Linked DNA regions of Homo sapiens. The protein of the gene in region 3 binds, or shares a complex with, the protein of the main gene of each other region. Each region holds a gene or a part of one and is shown on either strand. Other genes may lie near its edges.

Region 1 (7,033 bases), on a different chromosome or scaffold from region 3:
GCTTGCCTACCTCAAGAGATGGGGAGCTCACCACCTCTCCAGGCAGCCTACTCCATTGCTAGACATCCCTTACTGCTAGAAAGAGCTTCTTTGGCATGCTGCCATTACACACAGTTGCCAACTAATTTGTAATGACATGAAGGGGAAAATGCACAATTTCATGTTAAGTGGGTAATACAGGGACTCTAATCCCTGGGTCCCGATCTCAATTACATTAGAAAAAACTCTCAAAACCAAACCTATAATCCGTGGCAACATATGAGAGATGCCATTCTGAGATATGTTTACTTTTCTCTACATTTTTACATATTTTCCAAATGTTTAGTCATGAGTGTGTATTTTTGTATAACAATAAGGAAGTAACACATCCTTGGCCCCATGGCTGAGGGCACAGTCTGACACCAGACAACCCCAGGATGGCGCATTTGGTGATATGGTTTAGTTTCGTGTCCCCCCACCAAAATCTCACCTTGAACTGTAATCCCCATAGGTCAAGGGCGGGACCAGGTGGAGATAATTGAATCATGGAGGTGGTTTCCCCCATGCTATTCTCGTGATAGTGAGTGAGTTCTCCCACGATCTGATGGTTTTATAAGCAGCTTCCCCTTTGCTCAGCACTTATTCTCTCTCCTGCTGCCCTGATTCTAGTGAAAAGGACCCTTTTCACTAGGCAGAAGGTGGAAAGGACCCTTTTCACTAGGCAGAAGGTGAAAAGGACCCTTCTGCCATGATTTTAAGTTTCCTAAGGGCTCCCCAGCCATGCAGAACTGTGAGTCAAGGAAACTTCTTTTCTTTATAAATTACCCAGTCTCAGGTATTTCTTCAAAGCAGCATGAGAACAGACTAATACATTTGGTAAAATGCTTGGTTCATCATTGGTGCCCTTGGATATGTCTCAGGCCTTAATGCCACCCCAGAGCCAGGGCTCTCACCATTCAGAGGTGACATCAGCTGCCAGAGAAGGAGGGCGACCTGTCCCCAGCCCCCGCGAGCTCTTACCACAATGGGCCGGGGGTTTGACTCTGCACTGCTCAGAGTGAGCTTCTTGACTCGGGGTCCGAAGCTGGCATGGCGGTAGGAGAGGAAGTCTGGGCGTCCTTGATAGTACTCTGTCATTGTCCTGGGTGTCTCCTCCCGCTTCATCAGGCCATCCACACGGGCCGTTTCATAAAACTCAATGACACGGTCCATCTCAGGTTGCATGGACTTGTACGAGTGCACTGGGTGGGGAGCGGGAGTTGGGAGGAGACAGCTTCATAAGCACTAGGAAGTATGGCTGCTGGCTTGGTCGCCCAACCCCAGGCCCAGGGAGAAGACAGACCCACATTATGGATGAGGTTAGCTATGAACCAGTCCCCTATTGCTGGGTGTTTAGGTTGCGTACAACTTTTTCTGATTATTACCAACACCATGATGAACATCTGCATCGTGCATTTTTTGTTCTTGTCCATTATTTGCTAAGAATAAATTCTCAGCAGTGGAATTGCTGGGCCCAAAAGTGTACTTTTTTTTTTTTTTTTTTTTTGAGACACAGCCTCGCTCTGTCACCCAGGCTGGAGTGCAGTGGTGTGATCTCAGCTCACCGCAGTCTCCGCCACCTGGGTTCAAGTGACTCTCCTGTCTCAGCCTCCCAAGTAACTGGGACTACAGGCACCTGCCACCACACCTGGCTAATTTTTGTATTTTTAGTAGAAACGGGGTTTCACCATGTTGGCCAGGCTGGTCTCAAACTCCTGACCTCAGGTGATCCACCCAAAGTGCTGTGATTATAGGTGTGCGCCACTGTGCCCAGCCAAAAGCGTACACGTTTTATGGTCATTATCAATATTTTGCCCAACTGTCCTCCAGAAAAGTTCCAATCTGCTGTCCCATCAACAGTGACACAGAGTGACTGTTGCTCCCATACTTGTTCATACCCAGTAGGACCATTTTTTTCATCTTTGCCAACATGGGGGTTATAAGATGGTCCTTTATTGGTTAGGGACCTTATTAGTTTCTTTTTTTTTATTATCAACTTCCAAATGAGGTTGATCATTTAAAAAAAATGTATATTACTCCTATGCTTTTCTTTTGTAAATTTCTTGGTCAGGATTTTTTTTTTTTTCTTGAGACAGGATCTCTATCTGTCACCCAGGCTGGAGTGCAGTGGCATAATCTCGGCTCACTGCAGCCTCGACCTCCTGGGTTCAAGTGATTCTCCTGCCTTAGTCTCCTGAGTAGCTGGGATTACAAGCACATGCCACCATGCCTGGCTAATTTTTATATTTTTTGTAGAGATGGGGTTTCACCATATAGCCCAGGCTGGTCTTGAACCCCTGGGCTCAACTGCCCATGTTGGCCTCCCAAAGCGCTTGGATTACAGGTGTGAGCCCCTGTGTCCGGCACTGCCTCCTTTAAATGTGGCCTCCACCGTGTGACCCCATGGTGAGGTTCCGGCCTGATTCCAACCACAGAACGGGTATGTGGCGCCCCCTTTAGCTTTCCTGGAGGAGCATTTGTTATATTTCCTTAGAATTTCTGAGCTTTCCCTGACCTCCCACACATCGGGTTTGCTGAGGGAGGCAGGGCAGCTTCTACTGCTTGCTGCCCAAGAACCCATGTATAATATGTATGCTGGTTCCTGCCACCACATACCACCTGCCACAGGGTGTGTGAGGCCTCTACCCCAGGCTCCTGGGTGGCCCAGGAAAGGGGAGCCACGCACCGCGCAGAGCCTGGGGGTGGCCAGGCTTGAAGTAGTCTGTCTTCAGGTCTGTGGTCTTGTTTATGTGTTTCAGCTCCAGCATGTCTTCCCGGTTCTGGTACCACTCCTTTATCTCCAAAATATTGGTACCTGTGGGGCCGATGGACACTTGCCGCAGCCAGGCCAGCTCCCCTAGCCTTCAACCCCCCTTATTCCAGGCACACAGAGGCCAGCAATGACCCCAGAGAGAGTAGAAGCCGCCCCCGCCCCTGGGCTGGCCTGGACCCATGTCCAGAGCAATCCCCCTTACACTGCAAGTCCTCATAGGTGGTGAGGCGGCTCACAAGGCCATTGCTATTGAGGTACGGGGCCCACTTCTCCAGCTTTGCCCTCTTGTACTGAATCACCTTCTTCCCGTTCGGGCAGCGGGTCTCAAATGCTGTGGACACAGTCAGCTGTGGTCTCTTCTTGCTAGTTTGGGGGAAGGGAGGGCCAGCCCCGCCCAGCCATTCATCCATCCACTGCCCGTTCTCTGTGTACTGAACTCCTCCAGCCCCAAGCCTGATCCAGGGAGGCCGAGGAGAATAATCACCAGGGGTGGCTCCAGCCCTAGAGGGGTTCTCAGGCCAGGCAGAAGCACAGATCCACCCAAGAATGGGATTTGAGCCCCATCAGAGGGTCTGCCCTGCAGCCAACCACACTCTCACATTGCCAGGCCTTTGCTTGTACAGGTCTCTGCCAGAAACACCGTCATCCCCTCCTCCCCTTGTTGGACTGACTCCTTCAGATCCTTCCAAACTTCACCCAGGTGACCCCTAGCCTACTTCTGGTACCCCTTTCTGCTCACCCATCCCCAGGCCCTAGCCCCAGTGCTGGGCTGGGTGCGCCCCCCTCTGGGTTCCCATGACAGCCTCTCTGGCACTTCCCACCCTGTTGAAGTGGCCCATGCCCTCCCCATAGGTCTGGGTGCTCCCTAGGTGGGCACCAGCAGATATTGACATGGAGCATGACAGTCCCTGCCCTCCTGCCTTCTCTACCTGCCCCTCTCCGGTCCTGAGACCCCCCGCACCATCTGGGCACTGCCCATGGCCTCCTCTGGGTAGAAGAGTGTGAGAGGGGAATGGGCTGGGTTTCCAGGCCTTGCTGTCACCTACACGCCATCATCCCACACATGCTCACTGAACTGCATCGCCCCGTGTGCCAGACTGGTCGTCAGGCCCTCGGGGTCAGAGCTGAGTGCGTGTGGCAGGAAGGGGGGAGGGAGGGAGGGAGGGTGCAGCTGAAGGTGAGAAGGGTGGAAATGTGGGGCATGGCATTCCCTGCTGTGTCCCCCTGCCTCGCTGTTGCAGACCTCTCTGGAGGCCCAGGAACTGGATCTGGAGAGGATAAGTGAATACACAAATAGAAAATACCTTCCGGGGAGATCTCAATCTGCTCCACCCACGAGTGGGGCATGTCGAAGCTCTTATCCTCATCCTCCTTGCCCTGATGGGAGAGAAGGGGGTGGGGGAGGTGGTGCTGGTCAGGGTGTTGAAGCAGAAGTTATGGTCAAAGCTCTGTCTCTGCCTGCAGAGCCAAGCCAAGGTGGTCCGTTGGCTTCCGCAGGGGAACTGGAGGTCATGAGCACGACCCATGATGTGGAAAAGGAGGAGTCGACTCTGGGCAGGGAGCCCTTCCCTATACTTGCCTGGCTTAGGACAGCAGCACCCCCTGCCCTGGCTGCAGGCCCTTCGTGATTAGAGAGGTGTTTCTGGAGTCAGGGTACCCAAGCCCCACCCTCTCTCCAAGACCAGCTAAGGGGTCCTGGGCAAGTCCTTTAACTGCTCTAAGCCTTAGTTTTCTTAACTGTAAACTGGACCTTTTAGGAGGATTAAATGATATAATGTCTGTAAAGGCCTTGGGGCTCTGATTGGCTGACATTATTATTATTATTATCATTTGAGATGGAGTCTTGTTCTGTTGCCCAGGCTGGAGTGCAGTGAATCTTGGCTCACTGAAACCTCCGTCTCCCAGGTTCAAGTGATTCTCCTGCCTCAGCCTCCTGAGTAGCTGGGATTACAGGCATGCACCTACCACACCCAGTTGATTTTTGTATTTTTAGTAGAGACGGCCGGGGGAGGAGGGTGGTGTCTCACCGTGTTGCCCAGGCTGGTCTTGAACTCCTGACCTCAAATGATATGCCCACCTTGGCCTCCCATAGTGCTGGGATTACAGGCATGAGCCACCATGCCCGGCCTATTATTATTTCCTCTCTGAGCCTTAATTTCCCCATTTGTGAAATAAGGCCCGATCTAGATAAATGGTCCTCAAACTAGATAATCACAGAAACTTGGATAAGACTTTCTCGACTTAAAACCTTTTTTCCACAAACATTGCTCATACCTCTGACAACTGTTTATCTAATTGTGACATTTTGCAGGGGACAAAAATGAGTGAGCAGTCAGCAGTTAGTATTGTCAAAAATCTCTAAGATGGTCAGGTGGGTGGGCTGTCACCCGGGGTCTGGTTTTTCCTGGGGGTCCATGACTGGGTTCTGACTCTTTGGGCTGCCCTCTGTCCGTCTTTGCTGTAATGAGGGCTCTTGGGCCAGGGTGGACCAGGACTCTGTGACTGGAACTGTTTGATTATTAGCCATGTGGGTGCTCAGCCGGCTGCCTGCAGGGCTGGGCTCTCAGGCCCTGGCTGGTCCATGCCCCAAGGCCAGCAGGGGGCACCTATGCCTGGATTTACTGCACACAAGATGTCCCCAGTCTCTGGAGATGAGGATGCTGAGAACATTTAGCACCCTTTTGAGATGGTCTACACTGCTGTGCCAAGCACATCACATCAAGCAGCCCCAGGAGGTAGAACAGAGTTACCATTGAGAACCCAGACTGTGGAGCCAGACTGTGTAGGTTCAAATCCCAGCTCTGTCACTTACCAGCTGTATCGCTTTGGGTAAGTGACTTAACCTCTCTGTGTGTGAGTCTTCCCATCGGTAAAATGGGATAATATTAATCACAGGTGGTAATACCAGTGCCCACCTCACCAGGTGGCTGTGGGGATTTAAATGAGTTACTTCAGGTTAAGTAGATACAATGGATCCCAGTGCTTAGTAAGGACCATGTGAGTGCTACCTTTTGCTACGGGCTGAATGGCATCCCCCTAAAATTCATAGGTTGAAGTTTTAAGCCCTGAAAGTGACTGTATTTGTTTTATTTATTTTTCTTATTTTTTCTTTGTTGTTGTTGTTGTCTTGATCACTTACTGTTTGAATGATTGTTTTTAGAGACAGGGTCTTTAGAGAGGTGATTAAGGTAAAATGAGTTCATTAGAGTGGGCCCTAACCCAATATGACTGGTGTTGGTTGGGCATGGTGGCTCATGCCTGTAATACCAACACTTTGGGAGGCCAAGGCAAGGGGATCTCTTGAGCCCAGGAGTTCGAGACCAGCCTAGGTAACATAGCAAGACCATGTCTCTCTGAAAAACAAAAATTAGCTGGGTATGGTGGTGTGTGTCTGTAGTCCCAGCTACTCCAGAGGCCAAAGTGGAAGGATCATTTGAGCCCAGGAGTTCGAGGCTGCAGTGAGCTATGATCGTGCCACTGCACTCCAGCCTGGGCAACAGAGGAGACCCTGTCTCAAAAAAAAATAAAAAGAAAAATGACTGGTGTCCTTATAAGAACAGATTAGGACATAGATTTGTACAGAGGGAAGACAATGTGAAGACAGGGAGAAGACAGCCATCTACAAGCCGAGGACAGGGGGCTCAGAAGGAACCAACCCTGTCCACACCTTGATCTCAGACTTCCAGCCTCCAGAACTGTAAGAAAATTAATTTCTGTCATTTAAGCAACCGCATCTGTGGTGCTTTGTGATGCCAGACGAATGCACTTATTAGAATTACTATGAATACAACTATGATCCTTCTGCCTCCATTTCACATAAAGGCTGAAACTGAATTCAGAGAAGGGAGGCTGGTGATGTGGGTAAGGCCCTGGCCAACGACATTCAGAGGAACTGACAGAACAGACAAGAAAGGCCTGGCAGCATGTGGGGCTCATGATGGCTACTTGGGATAGAACTGAGAACAGCCAGCTCTGGGACTCCCAGGGGGTTGCAGAGCGGGGTGTTATGACCCCGCTCTGCAACTTTCTTTTTCTAAATTTATTTTTATTTTTATTTTTTGTGGTGGGGTGGGGTTGCGCAGGCTGGAATGCAGTGGCATGAACATGGCTCACTGCAGCTTCGGCCTCCCAGTCTCAAGTGATCCTCCTGCCTCAGCCTCCCAAGTAGCTGGGACAACAGGTGCATGCCACCACAGCCAGCTAATTTTTAAATTTTCTTGTAGAGACAGGGTCCCACTATGT
Region 2 (7,966 bases), on a different chromosome or scaffold from region 3:
TAATTAGGGGAAAAAAATGAAGGTTGAACCCAGGAGGCAGAGGTTGCAGTGAGCTGAGATTGCGCCACTACACTCCAGCCTGGGCAATGAGAGCAAAACTCTGTCTCAAAAAAAAAAAAAAAAAAAAAGAAAGAAAGAAAAAGAAAGGAGGCAAGGAGAATAACCACAGAAAGGAGAGGAGGTGGGGAGTGGGTAAAGGAGAAGACAGGAGTCTGAGAGAGCTCTGCCTGTTTCACAGATTGGTCTTAGTCTGGCCTGGCAGTCATCAGCCTGCAGCTGAGGGTGCAAGTAGGTGGCACTATCTTCCCTGGGAGCCTGCAGGGATGGGTGGATACCCAATAGCTGGGGGCCCCGGGCACATGGACAGTCCCCAAGGACCCACAGAGGGCAGTCCTGGAGGTGGCTGAAGGGTCACCTTCCTCTCCGGAGCTTTCTTTCCCTGGGAACCTGTTGGGCCAGTCAGAGAATGCCAGAGTTTGAAGACTAGGAGCATGTTCAAGACTCCAGTCTTGAACATGGGCAGGGCAGGAATCCTGACATTCCAGAGAGGTCAGGGCCACCAGGAGTGGGTACGTCTTGTGCCACCACCTGGTGTCTCCATCCAAGGATGTGCTGCGCTCTCAGAGGGGGAAAGTGGGAGAGTGGGGACACGTGCAGTGGACTTTCACTTCTCTGGGGCCTGCCTCACCAGCTTGTTTGGCTTCACATGGTTGTGTCTCTAACCTGGGACCACAGTCCCCAGGGAAAGGCCAATCCTCCTCCCCTGGGCCCCTACTCTGCATCCTCAGGACCAGGGTCCAGGGTCCTGAAATCACACACAGGGAACAACGTCTATACCAGGACATTAACTCAAAGGATTGGGTGTGGACTGCTCTTTCCATGCCCAAGCACAGGTAATAGAAAGTGACAAGATGTTCCAGTTTGGCCAGGGTTGTCCTCATTTCTGATGGCTTGAATCTGGTGGACAGGTGTTCTGGGAACCATACCCTTGGCTATATATAGCTATGATTTATTGAGAGCTCTAGGCCTTCAATAACATGTACATAGCAGGAGGCAGGACAGCAGCTGGCTAAGTACTCAGGAGTTGTGCTGCTGCCTCAAGTCAAATCTCCACGGTGCCCCCCACTATCTGTGCAACCTTGGGCAGGTCCCCACTTGCCTCAGTTTCTTCATCTATAACGTGGGGACAGTACTTAATAGTATCTATTTCATAGGATTACTCAGAAGATTAAGGAGCTAATGTGTGTGAGACATTTCATATAGTGCTGGGCCCAGAGCCAGCACTCAAGATGTGTGTTAGATATTGTAGTGAAGATGCTAGATACCTTACTACATAATTTTATTAAAATCTCAAATTAATTATTGAGGATTATTATTTAACACTATTGTCCCCATTTCACAAATGAGGAAACTGAAACTTAGAAAGCTTAAGTAACTTACTAAATGTCACTAGCTAGTAAGTGGAGAAGCTGAGGTTTTAGTTTGTGTCTGTCTAATGCTCTTACTTCCATGAGATGCTGGGGTTGCTTATAAATTGCTCCCAACTCAGTCATTCATAGCACTTTTCCAGTGGGTCTCCCACTTTCTCCAGCTCATGAGCTCTCTTGTTCACCAATATGGAGCCCAGGGTTATACCCTTGGTGCTGACCTAAATAGTCCAGGCTCCCTCTTCCAGTTCACTGCTGGGTATAGGAGACTTCCGCAAGGCTGGACCACTGCCTGCATCCTTTGGAGGGTGCAAGGAGCCCAACAGAGTGCTGCAGAGTGGTGCTCTCCTGCCCCTGGCATATTCCCTCCACAGGAAGTCTCAGGTCTTCTCCATCCTTCCTCAGGTCCCCAGCTAAATCTAACCATTCTGGGTAGGAGCTCCTTCCACCTGCCCTAATGGGAACACGAGGAAGATGCTGTAGGTTTGCATTCTCACCTTCTTGTGCATCACAGTTCTGGTCCTCAACTGTCCCCTCCTCCCTTCCTCTTAGTGGAGAAGTGGAGACACCCGGCCCTCTTTGGGCAGACAGCGCCTCTGTGCCCGGGACACTTCCCCAGGAGCTGGCTTTGCACCCACTGCTCTGACTGCCTTCTCTGCCTTCTCAGCCGCTCCCACCCCAGATCCCCTCAGGAGAGCCCTCCTCTGTTCTCAGGGCTCTGGGCTTTTGTCTACAGCCACCTCCATATCCTTCATGCCCACCATGTCTTACTTTGGGGTAAGTCACTCCCAAGTTGGGAATTCCACTTGTGGAAGGGCAAAAAACTTTCTCCAACTGAGCCTCGGCCCGTGTGCTTGGACTTGGGCTGGGTGAAACCGCCAGTTCACTTACCACAGCCCCTGGGCTGGCCTCCTCCCAACTCCTGACCACTCAGGTCTGTTGTCTCAAAAGTGACTCCAGCGGCTCTGGAGTCTCCCACCCCTCCTCCCTACCTTCAGCTCAGACACCCCAGCAGAGAAGCTCAGCTCCAAAGGCCAGGAGTCCCTCCCCCATCCTACCTGGGGTGTAGAGGCGCTGGCTTCTCCTTGGTAACCCAGGGAAACCGGCAGTGCAGTGGGAGGTAGGGAGATGAGGAAGCTTCCGCACCCGCGGGAGGGATTACAGCCCTCGGGTGATGGGAACGGACGGCCTTTCGGAGAAGCCTAGGGCCCCAGGGCTTGGGACCGCTCTCCTCCACGCCCTACGGATGCCCCACTTTCCCCCTCTTCTTCCCAGTCCCTCCCCTCGCCTCACTCGGATCCCCAGCCCCGGGCCAGACGGTTTGCAGACAGTGACTGTGGTGGGGAGGAGGCGCGGGGCGTCCTCGCGTGGAGGGCGTGGGGTCTCCCGTGGGTACGGACCGGCGCTTCCCCGCCACGGAAAACGCAACCCAGGCAATGGCCGCCCGTGGGCTTCGGGCCGGTGTGGGCAGAGGACGCTAGAGGGGCTCCCGGGCCCAGCCGGCCAGAGGGGGCCCCGATAAGGGAGACCGGGGCTGGGTGTCCCCACTCCCGGAGGTCGCCTCACCCGCTCCGGGAGCCCCGGCGCTCGCCTCACGCAGAGTCCCGCGCGCCGGCGCAGGTCTTTGTCGTTGGGGACGCCCCGCGTTGCTAGGAGCGGGCCGGGCCGGGAGGACGAGCGCGCCGCTGCTTCCTCCGCTGCCGCTGCCGCTGCGCGCCAGGCACGCGGCTTACTCGCGCGCAGGGTGGCCAGGCCCGGCCTCGGGACGGTTCCGTGGAAGCGGCCGCTTTGCGGGTAGTGGGACTGTGGCCTTGCGCTATGCCCTGTGCTTCCGTGGGACGTGTCTAGGAACGGGTGGGCTTTCTGCGGGAGGCGGGGGTCGGGCAGGGCTGCTGGTCTGGAGTGCTTGTGCTCTCTTGGTAGCTTTTGTGTGGCAATGGATAGGGAGCTGGTCCAGGAAAAGCGTCTGTGGAAGAAGAGGAGGGTGGACGCACCTTCTCCAAGGCACCTGTAGAAGTCACTGGAACTCCCGTGAGGCCTCCTGTTGACCTTAGGCCCTGCGGGAGGGAGGGCACCTTCCACCTTTCCCCCAGCTGAAGGTCTGGTACCAGACGCAGGAAGGTTCCAGGCCAACACAGCGCTCCTTCACACAGTCCATGCCCTGTGCCAAACTCTCTTCCAGCCCTGGCGCGACAAGATGTGGTTGGGGCCCCAGATCTCCTGGAGGGCGAGAGGGACAGACCAGAGGGACGGCTAGTAAAAAAAAAGAAATTGGCCTTCAGGAAGGGAGAGGCAGCCAGGGTGGCGGGGCTTTCAAAGGGTAGCTTTGACTTCAGCTCTGCCGAGGACTACTAGTTGGTTACCCTGGATGAACATCTCGAAGCTCTGTTAACTCATCAATAAATCAGGGGTGCCAAAACTCATCTTGGCGCTCGCGGAGGAGCTTGAACCTGGGCCTGTGGTGAGCACTGCTAAACAGGCTACTGCCCCAGTGGCCAGGATGCTGCTTTGCAAGCAGTGAGGGGCCAGGCACCCGGGATTGGGTCCCTTCAAGCCCTCAGCAGTGCCTTACCAGCAAATCATCAGTGCCTTAATTAGAATGAGAAACTGCAGAAAATGATGCCAGGCGGGCCCACGCTGCTCGAATAATTTTTACTAGACAGAATTTGGTAGCCAGGGAGCCCTTGATTTGAAGATGGATCCCCTGAGGCCCTTTCCTTCATCTAGCAACAGAGATCTAGGAACAAAGGCAGAGGTCCAAAGTCTGGCTGTCTGAGGTGGACTCATTCTGGTAGGGAAGGAGGGCTTTCCTCCATCTCTGCTTCCTCCTGCTTTGAAGTGCCAATTTTCAGCTTCAGCTCAGGCTTGAGGCAGGTGCTGTACAACTTGTTTTAATAAGCATATTGTTTGTCTGACCCCGCTCTCCAGCCTCCTCACCTGCCCCTATCCCAGCTCACTGCTCAGTGGCACTGGCCACCTCACGGCCTCTGCATTGGCTGTTCCCTCAGGCTGGAATGCTTTTCCCTGATTTCCACACGGGTCACACCCTCACCTCCCAGCTCCCTGCTCACATGTCACCTCTTGGTGAGGGAATATCACCATCCACACTCCTGATCCCCATTCTCTATTTCCCCCCCAGACCTCATCACCATCTGACACTTTCTCCCTTCTTTTTTTTAAGACAGGGTCTCACTCTGTTGCCTGGAGTGCAGTGGTGCAATCATAGCTCACTGCGGCCTTGAATTCCTGGGCAAAGTGATTTTCCCACCTCAGCCTCCCAAGTAGCTGGGACCAAGGTGTGGGTAGTCTCAGCTACCTGGGAGGCTGAGGCATAAAGATTACTTTTTTTTTTTTTTGTAGACAGGGTCTTGCTGTTTGCGCAGGCTGGTCTTGCACTTCTGGCCTCAAGCGATTCTCCAACCTCAGCCTCCTAAAATGCCAGGATTATAGGCATGAGCCACCAAGCCTGACCCTCTTCTTTTGCTTTATTTCCTGTTTCCTCCACATGAAGCAGGCTCCATGAAGGAAGGAACTGTCAGTTTAGTGCCCGCCACGTTCTCAGTTGCTCAATTCATCAACAAACCAGCAGGGCCCAATTTAAATTAGAGGTCATTGTTAATGAAAGAAGTAATAGCAAAGAAGGTCTCCAGTGCTGAAATGATTTTCACAGGATGGTTCTGTATCTTCCCAGTAGCCAGGGAGCCCTTTGTCTGCCCACTGTTGCCTGGCACGCAGAGCCTGTCCGAACACTCATGGCAATGAAGATGGCCCGATTTGGATCCTGGGTGGCCTTTCAGACAGTGTGAGTTCAGACTGGTCTTAGGTTGCTGGGAGGGGCAAAACTACTCTTTTTTAAAGGTAATAGAACCTTCTGGAGCTTGCTATCCTCTGTGAAATAATTATTTGAGACAGAGTCTCGCTCTGTCACCCAGGCTGGAGTGCAGTGGTGCGATCTTGGCCCACTGCAACCTCCACCTCCCAGGTTCAAGCGATTCTTCTGCCTCAGCCTCCCGAGTAGCTGGGACTACAGGCGTGTGCCACCACACCCGGCTAATTTTTTGTATTTTTAGTAGAGATGGGGTTTCACCATGTTAGCCAGGATGGTTTTGATCTCCTGACCTCATGATCTACCTGCCTCGGCCTCCCAAAGTGCTTGGATTACAGGTGTGAACCACCACACCCGGCCAGTGAAATAATTTCTAATGTGCAGTCACAGCCATAATTGTCCATGTCTTCTCTTTCACCAAGGGGGTGTGTGTCTTTGGGCCCAGTTCTGCCTTCCCTAGCCCATGTCTCCTTGTGTCACGTAGGCCCTGGCCCAGGTGATCTTCTTTGGCTCAGCTGCTTGGCCTCCAGCCTCTAGTCCTCGCTTCAGCATGTGGGAAGGTTCTGCTGGCTCCTTCAGGGCTCCTGGCATTGCCTTTAGTCCATGTGGGTCCCTGGGCGGACCTGGGTCAGAGCTGGCTGAGGGCATAGGTTTGGGCTATACTGAGGGCAGCTTCCAGGTCAGTAGTGCTTCCGGTGCCTTGGGCCACCACTCGTGAGCCCCACGCCTTGCCCCCCATGTGGCTGCACACTGCCAGTGCCCAGGCCTCTGCTGTGAAGGTGGGCATGGCACCCTAGGAACAGAATCAGAAGAGGAAGCGATGCAGAGTGGCCCTCCCTGCCAGCATCCACTCAAGGTACCCTCAAGAGTGGAGCTGAAGGTCATCAGTGCCCCCTTCCCAGCTGGGCACATGGTGGGGCAGTCAGGTGATGAGCCGGAGAAGGTTTGGGCTGGAAATGTGTGTGGGGAGGTGTATGAACGTGAACATCTGCTACTTGTTTACAAGGGATGTGAGGCCTGGGAGGGGTTAGGAATTAAGGAATCTCTTGGTGCCTTCTGGGGTGGGGAGGGGCTGTTTTCAGGAACAAGGAGATTCCCCATCCCTGTCCTGGAGTATCCTCATAGATACTTCCACCCAGCCTTGGCCCCTTTGGGAGGAATTAAAGGTGTAAAATCAGAGAGCTGGACCAGGATGGGTATTAATGGGGGCGGTGGGCTGCTCTCCCACTTCCCTCACCTGGGCCACCTGACAGGCACACAGCACCTTCCCCATGGGCTGGGGGCTGAGTAGGAGCACAGACGTGCTGGGGGCCTGCTCACACAGCTGCCGTACCACCTTCACCAGCACCTGGACCACGAAAGACAGATGGTGAGCCCATCGCTTCCCAGACCCCTAGCTGTCTCCTGGTCAGGACTTTGCCCTCCCCAGACCCTGGGGCAGCCCGGCTTGGCTAGCACTCACTGAGAGAGACTCAGCAGAGACTGTGTCCACAATCAGAGGCCCCTTCGAGTGCCGCTCCAGCAGCTCCTGAGTTTTCTTTGCAGCCTATGGGGCAGGAAGGACAAGCAGAGGGGTCAGGCTGAGAGGCAGGTTTCCAATTAGCCCCAACTTCTGAACTAAGCCCCAGCTGAGCAATCCCCTGCTTCCCCCACCCACCCCAAAAGTCATTAGCTCTAGGCAGAGGTGGCAGGGACTCTGCCTAGGGTGGCCTCCTTTTTGGGTCCCACATGTGTCCTTCCTCACTTCCCTCACCACTTCCCTTTCATCATAGCTTCAGGCCCCTACAAATAGGTCGCTGAAGGTGAAAGGAGGAAGGTCAGAGCACAGATGGACCAGGAGTGGGCGGGAGAAAGGGGGATCCACAGTGGAGGTGCAATCAGGGCTGAATGGCACTAATCAAGTCAGTAGGCTTCCGGGGGTTCTGAGCCAGACTTGGGAGTTGGGGGAGAAACACAGTTTGAAAGAGACAGAAGTGGGGGAATGGCCTGGGTGATGGTTCTCAGCTGGCAGGAGAAGGAAGCTGCCACCACCCCGTCCTTGCACAGCCTCTGACTCACCCCCATGCCCCAGCCCTTGAGACTTCTCAGTGTATCTGCTGGAGTGTCTCTGGGCACATGGGTGCAGCCAAACCTCCTCTCACCTGTCCCATTTGCAGCTTACGGATGGCAGTGTTGGCACGCCGCTGCAGCATCTTCACTGTGGCCAGCAGCTCCCGCCGCTGCCACTGGGGCATCACAGCAGTTTCCACAGCCTATGGCCAGAAGCAGTACATCACCCCTGCCCTTCCCTGAGCCATAGTCTCTGAGGTAGGGACCAGCAGGGCCAGGGAAGACACCCACCCTGCAGACAAATATCTGGGCCAGCTGGAGCCCAACCCAATTGGAGTGCTAGGGAGAGTCTGAAGGAGTCCAGGGAGGAATAGGGGAGGTAATAGGGCTAGGAGAGGGTGGGGTGGTAGGCGTGGCCCTCACTTCAATGAGTCGTCCTATGTCCTTGGACAGCCTCAGTGCCTCCGCCACATCCCGGCTCCCCAGACTCAGCCGCTCAGTGGCCGCTTTCACTTCCTGGGCCAGGCTCTGGCCTAGCTCTCGGGCCTGCAGGGAGGGGACAGGAGGGTCAGGATTACATTCATCTCCCCAGGACAAGGCCTCTCAACTCATTACTGGTCAGGGACAAATAAGATTTAACAATCAGGACCAATCAAGGCACCAG
Region 3 (3,121 bases):
GGAGTTTTAGAGAGCTGTGTCCCAAGGATGAAGGTGTGGCTGTGGGTCTGGCTAGGATTGAAGCCATCTGGACCTTTTCTAGATATGACTCCAGGACCCTTGAGTGTAATGCAAAAATTTGGAGACCAGCTATGCCTGCCCTCTGTGGGTGCCTTAGCATTGCGGGAGGGTGGTGCTTGGTCACCGTTGCATTTGTTATAGAAATGGCCATTCGCCATAAATCTGACTGCCTGTGTTTGTGTTGGTGGGGGTAAGGGGCAGTGGTGTGAAGGGACCAAAAGGGCCTCAGGCTCAAGGGGTGGGATGCGGCTCCTGCAGGAGAGAGGTTGAGACCTGGTCAAATTTATTTCCTATCAATCACTGAATCTCAGGGATAATGGGTCAACCCAGAACTGAGATGTCTGTATGACAGCCACTCCTAAAAATAAACAACAACAAAAACAAAAAAAGAAGAAAACTAAATAAAAATAAAAATAAAAATAAGATCCACTTCTCTCTGCCAAACGGCCAGAGCCCACAGCTCTATTGAGTTCTACATCAAGACACTTTATTGCTGGGGCCTCAGAGAACACTAGAGACTAGGGGCTGGTGGCCTCAAAGATCCAGGGGGGGTGAGTCCAAACTGGCGTTGCTGCTCCTTGTGCCTGGCGTGAAGTCTCAGTGCTGCCCCATCCCACTGCTGCTTGATGGCTCTCAGCTTGGCCAAGAGCCTGTCCAGACTGTCCTGCAGACATCAATATTTCAGACCCCAGAAAGAGAGAGAGGGAAGGAGTGAGTGCTGCCCCAGGTTGGTTCATAAGCTTTCCTTGCCCAGTAGACATGGTCGTATCCCCTCTGTCTGCCCTCAGGATAGAGCAGGGCTCCCTTGGAGACGCTCCTTCTCCTTAACCCTGGGTTGTCAGTCATCATACGAGCTGGGGTTTGTGGGCATGGGGGAGTCCTGGGTACTGGGATGGCTGGGATCCAGGGGGTGGTGCTTACGTGTAAGATTTCCTCATACTTCGCCTCCATGTCTGCCATGTGGGCCCGAAGCTGAGCCAGGGCCTGGTCCCGCTCTCCGAGAGCTTGTTCAGCCTCTTCCCGGGCAGCTGCAGCCTCCCTTTGGCATGCCTCTGGGGGCAGGCAGGATGAAAGAGAGCAGGATGGTGACACTCTATCCTTGACCAGTCTCTCCAAAGGTATCTGGAAAGGAGACCTCAAATGGGCTCGTTCCAGACTCCCCCAGCATCACCAAATTTCCCGCAGTCCCTGTAAAAGCTGAAGCTCCACTGAGGTATATAGCAGAGAGTGGCGGGCTTGAGATAGAAGGCTCCAAAGTCGGATTACTACCTAGGTGACCACATGCATGTCTCTTTCTGAGCCTTGGTGTCTTCATCTTTTTTTTTTTTTTTAGATGGAGTCTCACTCTGTCGCCAGGCTGGAGTGCAGTGGCGCGATCTCAGCTCACTGCAACTGCCACCTCCTGGGTTCAAGCAATTCTCCTGCCTCAGCCTCCCGAGTAGCTGGGATTACAGGCACATGCCACCATGCCCAGCTAATCTTCGAATTTTTAGTAGAGATGGGGTTTCACCATGTTGGCCAGGATGGTCCCTATCTCTTAACCTTGTGATCCGCCCGCCTCGGCCTCCCAAAGTGGTGGGATTACAAGTGTGAGCCACCGCGGCTGGCTGGTGTCTTCATCTGTAAAGAGAGAATGACACATCCCTCAGGGGCATGCTGTGACCTTTAAACATGATAAATGGATGACAAAGCACCTAGCTAGTATACAGGAGGTGCTCAGTAAACATTGATTCATTGGCCGGGTGCGGTGGCTCACGCCTGTAATCCTAGCACTTTGGGAGGCCGAGGAGGGCGGATTACCTGAGGTCAGGAGTCCGAAACGAGCCCGGCCAACATAGGTGAATCTCCATCTCTACTAAAAATACAAAAATTAGCCAGGCATGGTGGCGCACACCTGTAATCCCAGCTACTCGGGAGACTGAGGCAGGAGAATTGCTTGAACGTAGGAGGTGGAGGTTGCAGTGAGCCGAGATTTGCCATTGCACTCCAGAATGAGCGACCAGAGTGAAACTCCGTCTCAAAACAAAAAACAAAAAACAAAAAAATCCCCAAAACAACAACAGCAAAAACAAAAACAATTGAGTCATTGATTGACTTGGAATTTGAGGTAAAGCAAAGATTAGGAAAGGAACCCAGAGTCTGAATGGCAGATAAGCAGCTCCTGGCCATCTATAGCTAAACCGAAGGCCTTTTTTTTTTTTTTTTTAGTTGGAATCTTACTCTGTTGCCGAGGCTGGAGTGCAGTGGTGCGATCTCGGCTCACTGCAGCCTCCGCCTCCTGGGTTCAAGTGATTCTCCTGACTCAGCCTCCCAAGTAGCTGAGATTACAGGCACACGCCACCATGCTCAGCTAATTTTTGTAATTTTAGTAGAGATGGCATTTCACCATACTGGCCAGGCTGGTCTCAAACTCCTGGCCTCAAGCAATTCTCTTGCCTTGGCCTCCCAAAGTGCTGGGATTACAGGGGTGAGCCACCGCACCCGGTTGAAGGCATTTTTAAGGTATGAAAACTTTGAGACCAAAATTGTGAAAGAGCTCATGTGTCATGCTGAGATATTTCAACATTATTTTGTAAGCAAGAGACAAGAGAAGCAAAGGCTTCCTGGTTTTTAAAAATATTTTTGCTTATTAGGAGTGTTTATTCATTTATTTGGTGAACAGTTATTTAGGATCTACCAGATGCTAGGTCTTGAAGATACAGAAGTAAATAAGTCAAACATTTCCCCTTAGTTTCATTGTAGAAATCAGCTAAACTAAAAGGGAATATGTTTTGCTCACAAGAGACATGGCAGTGGTGGGGAGTTAGGGCTGGACTTGAGAGGAGGAAATGGGGTGTGAGGCCTACATCTTCTTTTTTATTTTTATTTATTTTTTTGAGACAGAGTCTTGCTCTGTTGCCCAGGCTGGAGTGCAATGGCGTGATCTCGGCTCACTGCAACCTCTGCCTCCTGGGTTCAAGCGATTCTCCTGCTTCAGCCTCCCGAGTAGCTGGGATTACAGGTGTGCGCCACCACATCCGGCTAATTTTTATATTTTTAGTAGAGACGGGGTTTTGCCATT
Region 4 (7,033 bases), on a different chromosome or scaffold from region 3:
CGGAAAGGTGAGGAGGTGTGGTGCAGGTGAGCAGATGGTACTCCCATTGCCCTGCAGGTGTACAAGCAGAAAGTGAAGCACCTGCTATATGAGCACCAGAACAACCTGACAGAGATGAAGGCTGAGGGCACTGTAGTCATGAAGCTGGCACAGAAAGAGCACCGCATACAGGAGAGTGTGCTGCGCAAGGACATGCGGGCACTGAAGGTGGAGCTCAAGGAGCAGGAGCTGGCCAGTGAGGTGGTGGTGAAGAACCTGCGGCTGGTAGGTGTGGCGGGGGCACCTGGAGGCTGACAGGTTGTTGGGACGGCAAGCCTAGTGCTGCATGAACTCCTGTTTATTCAACAGCAACTGGGAATTCATATTTCTGCATAAGACTTTCTGCATTTTTGCAATTTGTTGAAAAAAAATTTTTTAAAGCATGCATCCAAACAAACCCCATTTTGGGACCAAGTACACAATTCTGTCTCAGACCTGAGCAAAAAATTGACGTCACCGAAGAGAAAAAATCCAGCTTAGGATCTTTCATGTGCTGCTGACACCTGACACCCAGAGACTTTTCCTAGGGAATAGCATCATATGCATTTAGTAGAATGCAAACCAACCATTAAAATATCCAGTGTGTTGACTCCTGGGCACTGTGACAGTTTGTCACACAAGCTGGTCTGATTTTTACTTTTGAGGCTGGGGGTTTCCAGGGCACCATTAAAATTCATCTGTGCACCTGGTTCAGTGGCTCACACCCAAAATCCCAGCACTTGGGAGGGTCAGGTGGGAGAAGTGGTTGAGGCCAATAGTTTGAGACTAGCTTGGGTGAAATAGTTGAACCCCATGTCTAAAAAATTTAAAAGAAAACATTAGCTGGTGTAGTGGCACATGCCGATAGTTTCAGCTACTTGGGAGGCTGAGGCGGGAGGATCCCTTGAGCTCAGGAAGTCAAGGCTGTGGTGAGCTAGGATTGTGCCACTGCATTCCAGCCTAGGTGACAGAGTGAGACAAAACAAAAAGGAAAGAGATCATTTGCTGAGTGTCCATTAGCTGCTAGGTCCTGATCTGATCTCTGACAAAACGCCTGCCCGACTGGGGCTGTTGGTCTAGAAAGGAGAGACAACAGGTGAGTTGGAAGACAAAATAAACGTGCCAGATACAACAGAGTATCTGGTGGGGAAGAGTGCCATAGAAGGATCGAAGTGGGGAGAGGTGGGGTGCGGTTTTGTACAAGCAGTTGACCGGCTGGGAGACGGGATGGGCCAGTGGGAAAGCTCAGAGTGACCAGGAGGAGACTGTGGGAGAGGGTCAGAGCTTGTCCGCCTCGAAAGCCGTGGTGGGGACTGGAGACGGGTCAGAGCTCGTCCGCCTCGAAAGCCGTGGTGGGGACTGGGACTTTGACCCTGGTGGAGTCTGTTGCCCTCTGAGAACTTGGGCAGAGGAGAGATGTGTCTCACTAAGGTTCTTCCTGGCTGCTGGGTTGAGGAGACTTTCTGAACACATTTGCCTCACGCCTGGAAGCAGTCCAGCCTCCACTGAATCTGGAAGAAACTTGGTGACGTTGCTGACTTCGCAGCAAAGCCTGAGAGTGCCGAAGTCTTGAGCCCTCCAGAATTAGCTGGTCTTAACCCAGGTCCTGGATATGATATTGTTACATAATCAGAGTTTCCTGTTGGGTAAAAATATGGCTTTAGGCCGGGTGCGGTGGCTCACGCCTGTAATCCCAGCACTTTGGGAGGCCGAGGAGGGTGTATCACGAGGTCAGGAGTTTGAGACCAGCCTGACCAACGTGGTGAAACCCCGTCTCTACTAAAAATACAAAAATTAGCCGGGCGTGGTGGCGCACACCTATAATCCCAGCTACTCGGGACGCTGAGGCAGAAGAATCACTTGAACCTGGGAGACGGAGGTTGCGGTGAGCCGAGATTGTGCCACTGCACTCCAGCCTGGGCGACAGTGTGAGAGTCTGTCTCAAAAAAAAGAAAAATTACTGCTTTAAAAATAATTTATTTTTTTATGCAAATTTTAAATATATAATGTTTATTTAAATATATAATAATTGTTCATTAAAACTATATATTTATTTATTTTTAGAGATGAGGTCTCACTCTGTCTCCCGGGCTGCAGTGCAATGGTACAATCATAGCTCACTGCAGCCTCGAACTTCTAGTCTCAAGTGATCCTTCTGCCTTAGCCTCCCAAGTAGCTGGAACTATAGATATGAGCCACCACACCCACCTAATCTTTTTTTTTTTTTTTTTTTTTTTTTTTTGAGATGGAGTTTTGCTCTTGTTGCCCAGGCTGGAGTGCAGTGGCACAATCTCAGTTCACCACAACCTCTGCCTCCCGGGTTCAAGCTATTCTCCTGCCTCAGCCTCTCGACTAGCTGGGATTACAGGCATGTGCCACCATGCCCGGCTAATTTTGTATTTTTAGTAGAGACGGGGTTTCTCCATGTTGGTCAGGCTGGTCTTAAACTCCCGACCTCAGGTGGTCTGTCCAGCTCGGCCTCCCAAAGTGCTGGGATTACAGGCGTGAGCCACTGTGCCCGGCAATCTTTAAATTTTCTGTAGAAGATCTTGCTATGTTGCTTAGGCTGCCCTTGAACTCTTGACCTCAAGTGATCCTCCTGCCTTGGCCTCCAGCGTGCTGGGATGACAGGAATGAATCCTTTTAATATGCTGCTTCAGGCAGCAGTGCAGCAGGTTGGAAGCTACACACGGCACCTGGAAAGATCCCACAGCTCTGTGTGGATGTGGCTGCTGCTCTTCAGGCTGTGGGATGGTTTGGCGATGGAACCAAGCGGGTTCAGTGCTCACGACGTCTGTTCATGTTCTCTCTCAAGCTTAGAGGTGACTTTAGTTGAGGGAGGTGAGTTAGGGAATATGGAGGTGACCAAAACCATGAGGAACAGGGTCAGCCTGAAGGGAGCGGGCTTCCCTCTGTGTCCGGCTGTGTAGTAATGGCCGCTTCTCCCTGTGCAGAAACACACCGAGGAGATCACCAGGATGCGGAATGATTTTGAGAGGCAAGTTCGAGGTCAGTTTCCCGTGTGCTCATTGTGTAGGTGCCAGAGACACCCCCGCCCCATCAGAGAGGAATTTACCTCCAGAGCTTGTTAACTCAGGGAGCAAAAACTGGATTAAAACAGCCAAGGCATGCAAGAGAAAGAACATGGAAGTTTCCAAGGCCAGTGGACCCACTCAGAATCCCAGAACAACCTATTTCCATGTGAGTTTGGGAGGCTGTGATTACCACACACATTCCCACTCCTAGCTAAAATCAGTAGTTATCAGCAGGTGGTAGCTATTCAGTGCCGTGGGCAGCCTTCTTAAAATAGTCTTCTCCATGGCTCCTGGTCTGAGAAGGCTCCAATTTCAGAAGTCTCTGTGTTTTACTAATAAAGGCTGATTGTGGCTGGGTGGCCACACAGGCCTCGGTTACTGCTCACTGGGGTCAGCTGACATTCAGCTGTTGGCACCCCCAGTGCAGGGAGCGATTAGCAATGCCTGTCACTGGCAAAGGCAGGCCGACAGTGGTGTGTGTGCTGAGTGTGAGCATCAGCAGAAAAACTCAGTCTAAACCCCTTTGTTCTTCTCTTGCAGAGCTTTTGCCTGCAAGGCTGTTCTGACCACAGTGGGCGTTTTGGGCCCGTTTACAGGCTCCATGTTCTGTAGCCGTAGGGGCACCACGTCTTCCTCTGCTAAGCTGCTGTTTGCTGCTGCCTTTCAGAAATTGAGGCCAAGTATGATAAGAAGATGAAGATGCTGAGGGACGAACTCGACTTGCGGAGAAAGACTGAGCTCCACGAAGTGGAGGAGAGGAAGAATGGCCAGATCCACACGCTGATGCAGCGCCACGAGGAGGCCTTCACCGACATTAAGAACTACTACAACGACATCACCCTCAACAACCTGGCCCTCATCAACTCCCTCAAGGTGCTGTGCGTGGGCTGGGCTGGGGAGGCACACTCTGCCTGTCCTAGAATGTGGGCTGCAGAGTCCTGGGGATCCAGACCCCAGCTCTCCACCCCAACACACCCAGTACTTTTTATAAGATTGTTTGACAATGCCCCTCTCATATCCTTAACTGAAATTCCTAAATAACGTAACCTATCTCTACCTATTGTTAAAAGCAGTCAGGATATTGCCCTCACCGTAGTGCAGAGGGGGAAGTAATGAAGTGTGTTCTGGTTTGTAAAAGCTCAGATGGAACCGCAGTGAGGGCCGTGATGTGGCTGGAGTGGATAGGTGTCATAGTCACTGCCTGCGACAGGTGGATAGGTGTCATCGTCACTGCATGCTGGCAGTGACAGGATTTTCTACAGTAGACAACGGCCCTTGGTGGAATCTTGAACAAAGTATAGTCCTTCAGTCTGCATGGAAGCTGCATTCCCAGAAAACTCAGAATAAGTTGAAGCTGCAGAAATACTGTTTATACATAGAAGACGTCTAGGTGCCAGCATGCCTGAGGCTGGCAGCAGCTGGTGATGGGCAGGAGAGCACCCAGCTCTCACCATGCAGGCCACAGCCCCTTTGGTTCTGCCTGCTGAGCCCCTGCCGGGCCTGTGCTTGTGCCTGCAGGAGCAGATGGAGGACATGCGGAAGAAGGAGGACCACCTGGAGAGGGAGATGGCAGAGGTGTCTGGGCAGAACAAGCGCCTGGCAGACCCTCTCCAGAAGGCTCGGGAGGAGATGAGCGAGATGCAGAAACAGCTCGCAAACTACGAGAGGGACAAGCAGATCCTGCTTGTGAGTTTCCCGCTGGATTCCTCTCCCTCCTTGGCATGAGCTTGCCTAGGCTCAGGAGGGAGGAGCATCACAGGGAGGGGCTTGGCCCTTAGGGCAGGAAGGGAGACGGGGAGGCCTGCATTTCTCCTTTCTCTGCCTCGTGTTCTCCTGGGGAAAGTAAAGTCTGGGGGTGTTTTGGAGACAAGGCCCTCATCTTCACCACGTGCTACCGGCCGGCCTTGGTGAGACTCAGCTGCTTGTGTCCTGGAACCAGGTCTTTCTGGCGATTATTTTTGGCCTTGCCATCTCCCAGGAGCCCGTGTTACTTGGATGACTGTGAATCTTGAATACTTTCTGTCCCCTACTCCCTGTTTTTCCTCCAGTGCACAAAAGCCCGTTTGAAAGTCAGGGAGAAAGAGCTGAAAGACCTGCAGTGGGAGCATGAAGTGTTAGAGCAGCGATTCACCAAGGTGAGTGGCACCACGCTGGCCCTGCAGTTGGCGGTGGGTGTTAGAGCAACGGTTCACCAAGTTCACCAAGGTGAGCGGGCACTAGGCTGGCCCTGCAGTGGGGATGGCACCCCTGCTAGCCAGGGACGGGGCTCTCCTTGTGGCCCCTGGACCAGCTTCAGATGCCTTGGCCAGGTTTCTGGGTTCTGAAGCTGGAGGCCCTGTTCCCTGTAACTCATTCCGCAGCTTCTAAGAGGCAAAAACCTGTGGCCTGTTCTGCATGCATATTCTGCAGAAGGCCTGGGGTCTTGATGGGGAACGGATCACACATGACTTTCGTCCCCTCGAGAGCTCACCTCTGAAAGCACATGAGGGAGGCTCTTAAGTGTAAGTGAAGATGAGTCTCCGGCTGCTCAGTGCTGGTCCTCACACTGGCGAGTTTTATGGGCTCCCTTCCAGGTTTCCTGCATGCTCTCGTGTGGATGTGACTTTGTATGTTACGAACACGGGATCAGGCCATAAGCACAATTTGCTTTTTAATCTCACAGTGTATCAGGCTGCACATAGGAAGCGGTCTCATCCTTTTCACAGCTGCTTGGTGCTGCGTTTTGTGAACGTTTGATCATTTAGCCGACTCCCGTCTGTTTCTAATGCTCTGCTGCTATAAGCATTGCTGCCTCAATCCTTTTAAATTTGTCTTTGTGCACTTGTGTGAGATTGCTTCTTAGGAAAGCCAGTTCCTAGCAGTGGGATTGTTGAGTCTGAGGGTTCTGTTCTGAGGACCCTGATCATCTGTCCAGAGGGCTGCTCTGAGTCACACACCTGCCAGGGTGCGGAGGGGCCGTTTCCATCCTCACCTGCACCAGATCTGACAGGTTTAAACCTTTGCAGAAGTGACTGGGTGGAAAACATCTCATTTCGTGGGCACTTCCAAGATTCGCAGTGAGTGGTAGGGGTGCTCGGTCCTGTCTCTGTCCCTTAAAGACGCTCCTTGCCTCTGTTCAGTTTCAAAGTTCTGGCCAAGGACCAATCCCTGCAGCATGGGCCCCTCAAGGCTTTGTCTGTGGTGTGCGGGGCCAGGGCATCTTATCTTGAGCCGCAGTTATATGTGCTGTTTTGTTCTCTAACCTAATTGAAATTTTTGAACACAAACCGTTGTAGTGGGATTCGCTTCTCAGAAATATCCCATCTGTCTGTCAGATCTAGCCCCACCTTCAGAGACACCTCAGGTCCTGCACGACGTGCATTGCTAGGCTGTGCCAACTCTTGGCACCTAAGGGAAGGGCACCTGCAAGGTAGTCAGTGAGATCCTGAGGACTGCTGTGTTAGACAAGGGGCCCTTCCTTCTCCCTGTGGGTTTTGAGGTGGACATTATTGGGAAGAGGACAGCAGAGACGTGCCTGGGTTGGAGCCTTGTTTTCTGTCACATTTTCTTCCATTTGAATGTGGTTCCTGACAGTGTCCAAGCTGGTGTCTCTTCCTAGAGAACCGAGAGCTCAAATTTATCAGCAAAATTTAGAGACCAAGGCAGTTATTTATTTATTTATTTATTTATTTATTTATTTATTTATTTTTGAGATGGAGTTTCGCTCTTGTTGCCCAGGCTGGAGTACAATGGCACGATCTCGGCTCACTGCAACCTCCACCTCCTGGGTTCAAGTGATACTCCTGCCTCGGCCTCCCGAGTAGCTGGGATTACAGGCGCCTGCCACCACGCCCGGCTAATGTTTGGTATTTCTGATAGAGACAGGGTTTCACTCTGTTGGCCAGGCTGGTCTCGAACTCCTGACCTCAGGCGATCCACCCACCTCACCCTCCCAAAGTGCTGGGATTACAGGCGTGAGCCACCACACGCTGCTCAGGGTG

Evidence for each region.
Region 1: DRC12 (region 3) and DRC7 share a complex: the UniProt entries of both Homo sapiens proteins name them as parts of the nexin-dynein regulatory complex.
Region 2: DRC12 (region 3) and DRC5 share a complex: the UniProt entries of both Homo sapiens proteins name them as parts of the nexin-dynein regulatory complex.
Region 4: DRC12 (region 3) and DRC4 share a complex: the UniProt entries of both Homo sapiens proteins name them as parts of the nexin-dynein regulatory complex.

Annotation. Positions count from the first base shown.
Region 1 is NC_000016.10:57,718,802-57,725,834, reverse strand, and holds part of DRC7 (dynein regulatory complex subunit 7), read right to left. Parts: intron 4,169-7,033; coding exon 4,096-4,168; intron 3,123-4,095; coding exon 2,994-3,122; intron 2,834-2,993; coding exon 2,705-2,833; intron 1,221-2,704; coding exon 1,000-1,220; intron 1-999. UniProt on the Homo sapiens protein: Component of the nexin-dynein regulatory complex (N-DRC) a key regulator of ciliary/flagellar motility which maintains the alignment and integrity of the distal axoneme and regulates microtubule sliding in motile axonemes.
Region 2 is NC_000006.12:44,294,666-44,302,631, forward strand, and holds the start of DRC5 (dynein regulatory complex subunit 5), read right to left. Parts: upstream 3,034-7,966; 5' UTR 2,994-3,033; exon of another isoform or gene 2,486-2,993; intron 1,882-2,485; exon of another isoform or gene 1,649-1,881; intron 1-1,648. Other genes in the region: AARS2 (alanine--tRNA ligase, mitochondrial), read right to left, coding at 5,882-6,046, 6,491-6,601, 6,716-6,799, 7,395-7,505, 7,726-7,848. UniProt on the Homo sapiens protein: Component of the nexin-dynein regulatory complex (N-DRC) a key regulator of ciliary/flagellar motility which maintains the alignment and integrity of the distal axoneme and regulates microtubule sliding in motile axonemes.
Region 3 is NC_000011.10:119,189,729-119,192,849, forward strand, and holds the end of DRC12 (dynein regulatory complex protein 12), read right to left. Parts: intron 1,113-3,121; coding exon 982-1,112; intron 914-981; exon of another isoform or gene 839-913; intron 725-838; coding exon 572-724; 3' UTR 526-571; downstream 1-525. UniProt on the Homo sapiens protein: Component of the nexin-dynein regulatory complex (N-DRC), a key regulator of ciliary/flagellar motility which maintains the alignment and integrity of the distal axoneme and regulates microtubule sliding in motile axonemes.
Region 4 is NC_000016.10:90,032,661-90,039,693, forward strand, and holds part of DRC4 (dynein regulatory complex subunit 4), read left to right. Parts: intron 1-57; coding exon 58-264; intron 265-2,972; coding exon 2,973-3,027; intron 3,028-3,720; coding exon 3,721-3,926; intron 3,927-4,571; coding exon 4,572-4,739; intron 4,740-5,101; coding exon 5,102-5,188; intron 5,189-7,033. UniProt on the Homo sapiens protein: Component of the nexin-dynein regulatory complex (N-DRC), a key regulator of ciliary/flagellar motility which maintains the alignment and integrity of the distal axoneme and regulates microtubule sliding in motile axonemes.